2 separate regions of the Homo sapiens genome follow, and region 2 is linked to region 1. The links come from fine-mapping of genetic effects on gene expression. A gene starts in region 1. The other region holds a variant in brackets. All regions are shown on one strand. Distances are between the middles of the regions. Region 1 holds the start of TPH1 (tryptophan hydroxylase 1). Region 2 overlaps SAAL1 (serum amyloid A like 1).

Evidence for each region. PIP is the estimated chance that this variant, and not a neighbour inherited with it, causes the effect. A credible set is the group of variants that fine-mapping cannot tell apart.
Region 2: its variant is the best candidate, but not a certain one, in a credible set for the expression of TPH1 in cerebellar hemisphere (GTEx, PIP 0.88).

What each region holds. Positions count from the first base shown.
Region 1 is chr11:18,043,781-18,049,167 of GRCh38, reverse strand. TPH1 (tryptophan hydroxylase 1) reads left to right here and starts at 2,899. Exons shown (of 11, transcript NM_004179.3): 1 at 2,899-2,927.
Region 2 is chr11:18,075,644-18,081,030 of GRCh38, reverse strand. SAAL1 (serum amyloid A like 1) reads left to right here. Exons shown (of 12, transcript NM_138421.3): 12 at 540-739. The coding sequence ends at 632. Among named protein-coding and RNA genes, the nearest start is that of SAAL1, 28 kb to the left of the region's middle. The variant G/C (reference allele first, on the strand shown) is at 3,181.

The DNA.
Region 1 (5,387 bases):
TCCTTTGGGTATATACCCAGCAGTGGGAGTGCTGGATCATATGGTAGCTCTATTTTCAGTTTTTTGAGGCACGTCCAAACTGTTCTTCATAGTGGTCGTACTAATTTATTATACATTCCCACCAACAGTGTACAAGGGTTCCCTTTTCTCCACATCCTCTCTAGTATTTGTTATTGCCTGACCAGGGTGAGATGACATGTTATTGTAGTTTTGATTTGCATTTATCTGATGACCAAGGATGTTGAGCACCTTTTCATATGTCTATTTGCCATTTGTATGTCTTCTTTGGAGAAATGTCTATTCAAATCTTTTGACCATTTTTAATTGGATTATTAAATTTTTTCCTATAGAGCTGTTTGAACTCCTTATATATTCTGGTTATTAATCCCTTGTCAGATGGGTACTTTGCAAATATTTTCTCCCATTCTGTGAGTTGTCTCTTCTCTTTGTCAATTGTTTCCTTTGCTGTACAGAAGTTTTTTAACTTGATGTGATCCCATGCAATCATTTTTCCTTTGGTTGCCTGTGCTTGTGGGGTATCACTCAAGACATTTTTGAGTAGACTGATGTCCTGGAGTGTTTCCCCAATGTTTTCTTGCAGTGGTTTCATAGTATGAGGTCTTAGATTTGAGTCTTTAATCCATTTTGATTTGATTTTTATATATGGTGAGAGATAGGGGTCTAGTTTCATTCTTCTGATGGATATCCAGTTTTCCCAGCAGCATTTATTGGAGAGACTGTCCTTTCCCCATTGTATGTTCTTGGCAACTTTGTCAATAATGAGTTCACTGTAGGTGTGTGGATCCGTTTCTGGGTTCTCTATTTTGTTCCATTGGTCTATGTGTCTGTTTTTATGCCAGAACCATGCTGTTTTGGTTACTGTAGCTCTGCAGTATAATTTGAAGTCAGGTAATGTGATTCCTCCAGTTTTGTGCTTTTTGCTCAGGATAGCTTTGGCTGTTCTGGGTCTTTTGTGATTCCATATAAATTTTAGGGTTGTTTTTTCTATTTCTGTAAGGAAAGTCTTTGGTATTTTGATAGGGATTGCCTTGAATCTGTAGATTGCTTTGGGTAGCATGGACATTTGAACAATAAGGATTCTTCCGATCCATGAACTTGGAATAGCCTTCTGTTCTTTTGGTGTCCTCTTTAATTTCTTTCATGAGTATTTTATAGTTTTCATTGTAGAGATCTTTCACTCCTTTGGTTAATTCCTAGGTACTTATTTTATTTGTGGCTATTGTAAATGGGATTAATTTCTTTTTCATACTGTTCACCATTGGCATACAGAAACGCTATTGATTTTTGTATGTTGATTTTGTATCCTGCAACATTAGTGAATTATTTAATCAGTTCAAATAGTTTTTTGGTGGAGTCTTTAGGTTTTTCCAAATATAGGATCATATCATCTGCAAACAAGGATAATTTGACTTCTTCCTTTCCAGTTTGGATGCCCTTTATTTCTTCTCTTGTCTGATTGCTCTAGCTAGAACTTCCAGTACTATGTTGAATAATAGTGGTGAAATTGGGCATCCTTATCGTGTTCCAGATCTACAAGGAAAGGCTTTCAGTTTAGGAAAGACATCTTTGACCTCAGCTTGGTTCTGAAAGGTCTCTCCCTGACCAGTATTTTTTATGGCATTGAAGTAAGAGCACTGGATTTAAACTCAGACACTTTTGCTTGATTATTGATGGTACTTACTAGCCTGTGCCAGAATAACGTCTTAGAGCCACCCCTGTGCTTCAATTTCCGTATCTGTAAAATACAAATAATATGTACCTCATAGAAGCATTATACAGATAAAAGAAAAATGCATAGAAAAGCTGTAAAGATCCTGAGCTTTAAAGTACATCCATACTCAGCAAAAAAGAAAACAGGAAAGAAAAGGAACAAATCACTAATACCTGCATGAAACTCAAAAGCATTATGTTAAGTGCCAGGAGCCAAAAATCTGTACATATTTCATGATTTCATTTCTGTGACATTCCAGAGAAGGCAAAACTGTGGAGACAGAAATCAGATCAGTGGCTGCCAGGGGCTGGGTGTGAGGTGAGAGACTTTAGACAAGGGAAATTTCTCGCAGTGATAGAAATGTTCTATATTTTGATCGTTTGGTGGTTACACAACTATACATGTTTGTCAAAACTCAGAATTGTACACCTCACAGGGTGAATATTACTGTATGTTAATTATACATCAATAAATCTTACTTTTCAAACATTGGAGGAAAGAATGTCCTATAATATACTTCGTTATGTGTACAGTCCTTTGGGATAAGGAGCTAATCGACTGACTACTCAACCAGTAAATACCTATTCCAAATTTTTTGCCTCTATGTCCTGTTGTTCACAATAGCACGTAATATGATTTTTTGCTAATATAGAATGCTTCTCTGCTTGCAGCTTAAAATTTTTTTTTAATTAGAAGGGCACTGAACACTTCTCTTCTAAAAAGTTCAACTAACTGTTGCTCTGCCTCAAGGAATGGGGGAAAGCACCAAGAGAATAATAAGTCAGGACTGGGCTATTAAATAGCCCAGAAGCACAGAGAGGTGTGGGAGGTGGGGGGATTCTTGCTTTGGTCTCCAACAGGCGAGAAGCACTGCAGTCCTATAGCAGGTCATTGTGTCGATAATAGGCGTTATCTTGGTTTGGAGAGAATGTCCAACTCTGGATTGTTCAGTGTTAGTCAGACTTGTGTGGTTAAGGACGGCCTAACATTCACTTAATTAAAACACCAGTCAGATACACGCAGAGATTGAGGCGTGCAAGTCTCTGGGAGCAGGCGGACGCGACTGCCCACGCCCCACACCCGCCGGCCCTCCCTTCTCATTGGCCGCTGCCCAGCTGCTCCGACGCCCGCTTCTATAAGAGACAGGCAGCGCGGGGCCGCCGGCCGACCCAGCCTGCACCTACTGGCGCCCGAGGTGAGTGAGGCGGCCCTTCCCGCGGGCACCGGGGACCGCCGTCGAGGCTTTGGCGGCGCTTGGCAGGCGCGGGGCTGGGCAGAGTCACCCTCCCGGGAGGTAAATTGGTGGTCTTGCGGAGTCAGATTTGGGAGGTCGGAGTTGTACCCCTATAAACGCTTACTATTCTTTCCTCCCACGCTGTTTGGGGAGAAAAGACACTTTCTGAGTGCCTCCTGTGTGCCAGGAACAGACTCTTTAGCCATCATGAGATTTCACCTTCATGACAAACTCTGGTAGATATTTCTTGAGTCCCCAGATGAGGAAAGTGGGGTCCAGAGTCCAACCCAAGTCTGTGTGACTCCTCTATGTTGGCAGAAACAGTAAGATTTTTCTTCCTTCCCTTCCTCTCCATCAAAGGGCAATGTCTCTTTTTTTCTTCTCCTCCCATGAAGGGAAGCTTCCCTTAAACAGCCTCCCGAAGAAGAAGGAGTCTCAGATGCAAAGCTTCTCAGCATCGCACTTACCATCATCACCACCATCCCAACAGACGACTGAGAGCTTTTTGCAAGGTCGCAATTGACAAAGAGGACTAGGTCCTTGCGGTTTAGAGTCAGTTAAGAGTCCGTGTGAACTCAACCTTGCCTTTGGCGTTTGATTTTCAGAGGTTTAAAATGAACTTCTCATTGATGTCCCACTCTACTTGACTTAGCAGGAAAAAGACTAGAGTTGAACTTGCTAACCCAGGAAAAGTTTGTGCCTGTTAGTTAAAAAAAAAAGGGGGGGGTGGAATTCTAATATCAATGTTTCTGTAAAGTTATAATCTGTGGTTTACATATGTTATCACTGAGGTCCATTTGTACATGTATTATTAGATTATCTCCAGATAGGGATGTGTCTTCTATTTCCATTTTCTCTGCCAGTGCCTTTATTTCCTAGAATACTGTTTTTCATGGATAGTGTTTTCTTTTGTATTTCATCTACACTTTCATCCTCATTCCCACTCCTTATTTAGAAAAGAAAATCAAGACTCCGTAGAGGATTCCCTCCCTCTGAAAGAATCCTCCTTGCAGTTTTTAGTTCTGTCTTCAAACAATATCCATGCTTTCAAAAGACTAATTCAGTAGTGCTTTGTGCTTCCTAGATCCGGTAAATATAAATTACACTTGTTTTACTGATTAAACTAAGGGAAGAAAAGAGTTGGTCATTGTATACGCCTTGACCTCTCCCAAGGGTCGGGTCTGTTGATCTTCTGAGTGTCTTCTTGGTATTTTTTCCTTATTTCCAGTGGTATGTCCTACACAGTGCATCCTTAGGCCAGGAGACGCAGTAGGAAAATGACTCTACCTTTCATGAGAAAAGGGTACCAGTTGGTATTAGCTGATCAGAGAGTTGCTTTAAAAATAAAATGCTTATGTATTGATGAGACACTGATTCAAACAAGTGTGACCTATTTTATCTTACCAGGTTAGTATTGTGTTTTTTTGTTTTGTTTTGTTTTGTTTTGTTTTCCTGAAAGAGTAGGAGGAGGTGGGTAGGTTGAAAGGGGAAAGGAAAAAGTAACAAGGCAAAATATTGAGGTTCTGAAAGCGGTTTGGGGTTAACTGGAGGAAAAAATAACTGATGCCTCATAAGCTCTGTCAACCAAGCAAAGTTATGGCCAAGTTTTAGTAACGATCAAAGATCTATGTCCTGTAAGATTATTTTGGGGTGGGGGGGAACAAAAAAGAGGGTGAGAATTTTCTTCTAGTTTTCTAGTTTCTTAGCAAAAGTTCCTTTTGAGAACCTTCATTTTTACCATGACTTAAACAAGGAGGAGTGTTTCCACATCTTTTTTTTTGAGACGCAGTCTTGCTCTGTCACCTGGGCTGGAGTGCAGTGGCGTGATCCTGGCTCACTGCAACCTCCGCCTCCCAGGTTCAAGCCATTCTCCTACCTCAGCCTCCCAAGTAGCTGGGACTACAGGCGCCCGCCACCACACCCAGCCAATTTTTGTATTTTTAGTAGAGACGGGGTTTCACCATGTTGGCCAGGATGGTCTCGCTCTCTTGACCTCATGATTCGCCCGCCTCGGCCTCCTAAAGTGCTGGGAATTACAGGTGTGAGCCACTTACATCTTAATATAATAATGTATGTCTTTAAATACATCAAAATAATATAAATGCCTTGCATATCATAAATTTCAATTAATGTATCCTTCACCCTCCTCTCCCCACACCAACTAAGGAGATGTTGGCACAAAACTTGATCCATTCCAGAATCAGGTAAAGAAAATAATTATGAACCCTAAAGGGATGGAGCCATGACTGTTAGCACCTTCTCACAATAGCAACTTCCAGGAAAGCTTAGGGACCAGTTTTGAAAATTGAAGGAAATTCTCTTTTTTTTTTTTTTAAGAGACAGGGTTTCACTCTGTCACCCAGGCTGGACTGCAGTGGCGCGATCATGGATCACTGCAGCCTAGAACTCCTGAGCTCAAGC
Region 2 (5,387 bases), 32 kb before region 1:
CTGCACATTTAGACTCCCCTGAGTCTACAATAAAAGTTGAGGGAAAAAAAGATGACTACTGGAAAATTCATAATAGTATTGGGAGTAACAATTCTAAGAGGAAAAAAATAAGCTCTGAATTTATAGTACTCCTTTCTGTTATGAAGTAGATAACATCTATATTAAGCCAAAATCAGATTCTTGGGAATAGTCAGTAGGTTTTTATGGTTCTTCAAATGACATCACATTTCCTACCATTAGAATCAGATTTCAAAATAGGAACTTTTTCAGGAAAATGAAGGACAGAATGTGGGAACAGACTGTAAAGAAGAGGCGGGGGGAGAAGTACTAGCTCAAGAGTAAAACGGAATGGGAAAGCATAGTCATTTCCTTGAGAATGATTTAGAAGACTGCTTAGGAAGTACTGTTACTATCATCTGGAGATCTGCCAGCATTTCTTTTCCATTGGACCATTTAGAAACCACAGGTAGAGCAATCAGTACCTTAAAGCACGTTTTTCTCTTCTGTGTTTGATTTTTGTTTGTTTGTTTGACTCACAGGTGGAAGATTTTATTAAAATCCTACGTGAAGTTGATAAGGCGCTTGCTGATGACTTGGAAAAAAACTTCCCAAGTTTGAAGGTTCAGACTTAAAACCTGAATTGGAATTACTTCTGTACAAGAAATAAACTTTATTTTTCTCACTGACAGTTGAAATTGACTTATTGGAAATATTAACTAAAGCCCATATTAGACCATAATTGTCTGGTGTTAACATTTTTCTGTCCTAGACTTGTCTCACTTTTTTTGACTTTGGAATCTGAGGTTTCACCACTGTCACCCCTCTTTTTATGTGATATTTATCATCCTCAGTTGAGGAAAGCAAAAATGTAAGCTTATCATTGAGGTTCTTTTTAGGATATGTGCGAGATCAGTGTTGATTTTCTTCATAGCTGTTAATTTTGTTTGTTTGTTTGTTTGTTTTGAGACAGAGTCTCACTCTGTCGCCCAGGCTGAAGTGCAGTGGTGCGATCTCAGCTCACTGCAAGCTCCGCCTCCTGGGTTTATGCCATTCTCCTGCCTCAGCCTCCCGAGTAACTGGGACCACAGGTGCCCGCCACCACGCCTGGCTAATTTTTTGTATTTTTAGTAGAGACAGGGTTTCACTGTGTTAGCCAGGATGGTCTCGATCTGACCTCGTGATCTGCCCGCCTTGGCCTCCCAAAGTGCTGGGATTACAGGCGTGAGCCACCGTGCCCAGCCTAATTTGATTTTTTTAAGTGAGAATTACGTCTTTGTATCCACTGTTAAGTATATTCAGCTGCAGTAACAGAAACCCTCCTGTAGCAGCTGAATCTGATCTCTTTCAGGAACCTTATGCAAAAATCCAGATGTAATGAGGTGGCTCCTTTCACCCTTCACGTGGTCTGCCAGGTAGGCCTTTGCGTTCATGTTTATTGCCTTGTGGTTAAGGGGGCTGTGCCATCTCTGGGCCTTTATCCACATTCAGGAAGAAAAAGGGAGAAAGAGAAGGGGCTTTTTCCTACCAAGTCTTTATGTGTGTTTGGCTGGGTTGGGGGGGTGCTTTTTAATAGATTTTTAAGAAAATATCTGTTAGGAATAACAAAGCCAGCTTTCTGAACCTCACTTTTGGTATAGCCCCTTCCCAATTTATATCAGTTTTTTGGCTTTAAAGCATTGGTCTTGCCTCATACTTTGTTTTCTTTCCTTGAGAGATTTTTGGTGATAAAACCAGATTTTTGGTGATAAAAACAGTAATCTTATTGGTAAGAGATAATATGATTTCCAGTTTAGAGGTAGGTTTATGGTTGGAAGTGTCACTGCTGAAAAGAACTGGAACATAAAAGTAAAATCTTACAGGTGAAATCTCATTGGTAGGTTTATATATACTACACTGTATGTATATTCGCATGTCCTCAGTGCTGACCTTATTGGTAGACTGAATTGACTATATTCAGTATGAGATTTCAAAGGCACTGATGAAATCACTCCTACCTGCTAGCTGACACGAAAATTCCACTCTTGGTTTTTTTTTTGTTTAAGTTTAAGCTTAAGATGCAAACACTGATTAAGAATAATACTTGAGGTTATTAGTTATGTTTACCTCAGTGCATATGAATTTCACTTTTTTTCTGAGAGCATGTTTTTTGTTGTTTTTTTGTTTGTTTGTTTTTAATTTTTTTTCTTTTTTTTTGAGACGGAGTCTTGCTCTATCGCCCAGGCTGGAGTGCAGTGGCGGGATCTCGGCTCACTGCAAGCTCCGCCTCCCGGGTTCACGCCATTCTCCTGGCTCAGCCTCTCGAGTAGCTGGGACTACAGGCACCAGCCACCACGCCCAGCTAATTTTTTAAATATTTTTAGTAGAGACGGGGTTTCACCGTGTTAGCCAGGATGGTCTCGACCTGACTTCATGATCCGCCCGCCTCGGCCTCCCAAAGTGCTGGGATTACAGGCGTGAGCCACCACGCCCAGCCTTCTGAGAGCGTGTTTTAAAACGGGAAGCACAAGGACCTTATGTACCTGAAGGAGTGTTCCACAAAAATGGCAAATTACAGAGGGAGGAGGAGAAAGGATAGTAGTGGGAAGGCAAGGAGTGTCCAATTTATTTTCTGCTCACATTTCTGTCTTGGACCTACACTGTTTACTTTGTTACTTCTTTATTGTTAGCATTATGAGTTTTGGTACATATTTTCATAGTACTTTGGTATGTTTGAAAACATCCTATATCTATAAATTATGATACTTTTAAGTGACCAGTGTTAAAGCATTTTTAATGCTGCATGTTCTGAAGAATTCACTCACAAGATTTAGTGCTTGAATCAGTTGCAGTGATATTTTGAAATGGTGCTTTCTCCAGAACCATAAATATGAAATTTTATATACAGATGAAATTATATACACAAATGAAATGGAAACTCATTTTTTTCCCTATACTGTTTGGCAGGGAAGAGGAAAAATGCAAAATGAGCTTGAGTTAGCATTTGTTATATTGAGTTTGATATTTTAAGTACCTAAACCACTAAGAAAGAAGGCATGGTTTCCTTCCACTGTTTTTGTTTTTGTTTTGTTTTGTTTTGTTTTGTTTTTAAGATATTTTATCCCCTACAGCAAATGGGATATAGCTAAACTGTTGTTTTCTTGGTGGGTTCAGCTTTCCAGATCAAGAGTTTCCCCACTCTAT[G/C]TTTAGTATTTTCTGTTGCCTTGCTTTGAATTAGTTACTGAATAATTTTGGTATGTAAGTGGGAAAAAGTTTAAGAGCCACCTCTCAGCCTGATATACTTTTTTTTTTGGTGAAGCACATGTAGAAACCGACTATAAGCATTAAAAAACAACCTCTATTAGGGGTTCAGAAAATCTTAAGTGTATGAAATATTGAACACCATTATCTGTTCTTCAGGACTGGGCAATGATGCTGTGTCTGAGCTAGCTGTGAAGCTGATAATCTGTAACTCTAGTATTCTATTTCTTCAACTAATATTCTTTTTTAATTAATATTCTTTATGACCTAATCAATAGCCTTTTTAAAAAAGAAGAAATAGGTCCATATTAATTTAGGACTGAATTATTTATTCTACTTGAGCATGTGTTCTCTTTTACCACTTTGGAACTTCAGTTTCCTCCATGCTCCTGTCAGAAGTTTTAAGAAAGGGAAAATAGGCAAATGCCCCTCTTAACCATACCATATTTTTCTTTCCTATTTTTTTTTTTTTTTTTTTGGAGATACGGATCTCACTATATTCTTGCTAAGACTGGTTTCAAACTCCTGAGCTGAAGCAATCCTCCTGCCTCAGCATCCTGAATAGAATATGTTTTCTTTTTGTTGCTGGTTTGAGATCCAAGAACCATTATTAAAAGTTATATATTTATAGTGAAATAGTATGATGTCTTGGATTTGCTTCAAATTAGTCTGGGGCAGAGGGAAAGAAGTAAGTTAATGGAGTAGATGAAACAAGACTGGCTGCGAATTGGAGTTGCTGAAGCTGGGTGACAATTACATGGGGTTCCATTATACTTTTTTTTTTTTTTTTTTCAGAGACAAGGTCTTGCTCTGTTGCCCAGGCCAGAGTGTAGTGGCACACTCATAGGTTACTGCAGCCTCAAACTCCTGGGCTAAAGCCATCCTTCTATCTCAGTCTCCCAAATAGCTGGGACTATGGGTGCATGCCACCATGCCCAGCTAATTTTTATTTATTTATTCATTTTTATTTTATTTTGAGACAGAGTCTCACTCTGTTGCCCAGGCTGGATTGCAGTGGTGTGATCCTGGCTCACTGCAACCTCCGCCTCCCAGGTTCAAGCGATTCTCCTGCTTCAGCCTCCTGAGTAGCTGGGATTACAGGCACGCACCACCACACCTGGCTAATTTTGTGGGTTTTCTTTCTTTCTTTCTTTCTTTCTTTTTTTTTTTTTTTTTTGAGACGGAGTCTTGCTCTGTCACCTAGGCTGGAGTGCAGTGGCGCAATCGCGGCTCACTGCAACCTTCACCTCCCGGGTTCAAGCGATTCTCCTGCCTCAGCTTCCTGAGTAGCTGGGATTACAAGCGCATGCCACCATGCCCGGCTGATTTCTGTATTTTTAGTAGAAACGTGGTTTCACCATGTTGGTCAAACTTGTCTCAAACTCCTGACCTTGTGATCCGCCCACCTCTGCCTCCCAAAGTGCTAGGATTACAGGCGTGAGCCACCATGCCTAGCCTAGCTAATTTTTATATTTTTAGTAGACAGGGTTTTACCATATTGGCCAGGCTGGTCTGAAACTCCTGACCTCAGGTGATCCGCCTGTCTTGGCCTCTCAGTGGGCTGGGATTACAGGCGTGAGCCACCACACCTGGCCTATTTATTGATTTTGTAGAGATGGGTTCTCACTGTTTCCCAGGCTTGTCTTGAACTCCTGGCTGCAAACAATCCTGCCTCAGCCTCCCAAAGTGCTGGGCTTGCAGGTCACCACACCTGGCCTTCCTGTTAAAGGTTTATAAAAGCAAATAAATGATACACAACTTAAGCTTTAATTTGATTATGAATGATGCTTATTCCTTTTATGTCATTGGGCTAGTCAAACTTACAAGAGCCTGGGCCAATGTAGTCTTGAGTCTTGTGGGCCAGTCCAGCAACCAAAAAAAAAACCACAGGTGAGACTGGAAGCAGGAGGGAACCTTGTGGTGGTGCTGCTAGCCCTCCACTCACCTCTCATACTATTTGTTCATCAACCTGACTGCTTTGTATTTCTATATAGAATGCAAAATCTGCATCGCTAAGCTTTTATGATGTATCTTAGATAATTTGCATGAGGTCACATTTGCTTAAATCCAATTTTATACAACCCAAGGAACATCTGTAATATAAAAGCCAGAAAACCTCCATAAGTTCACATTTCACAGCCAAGGATTTC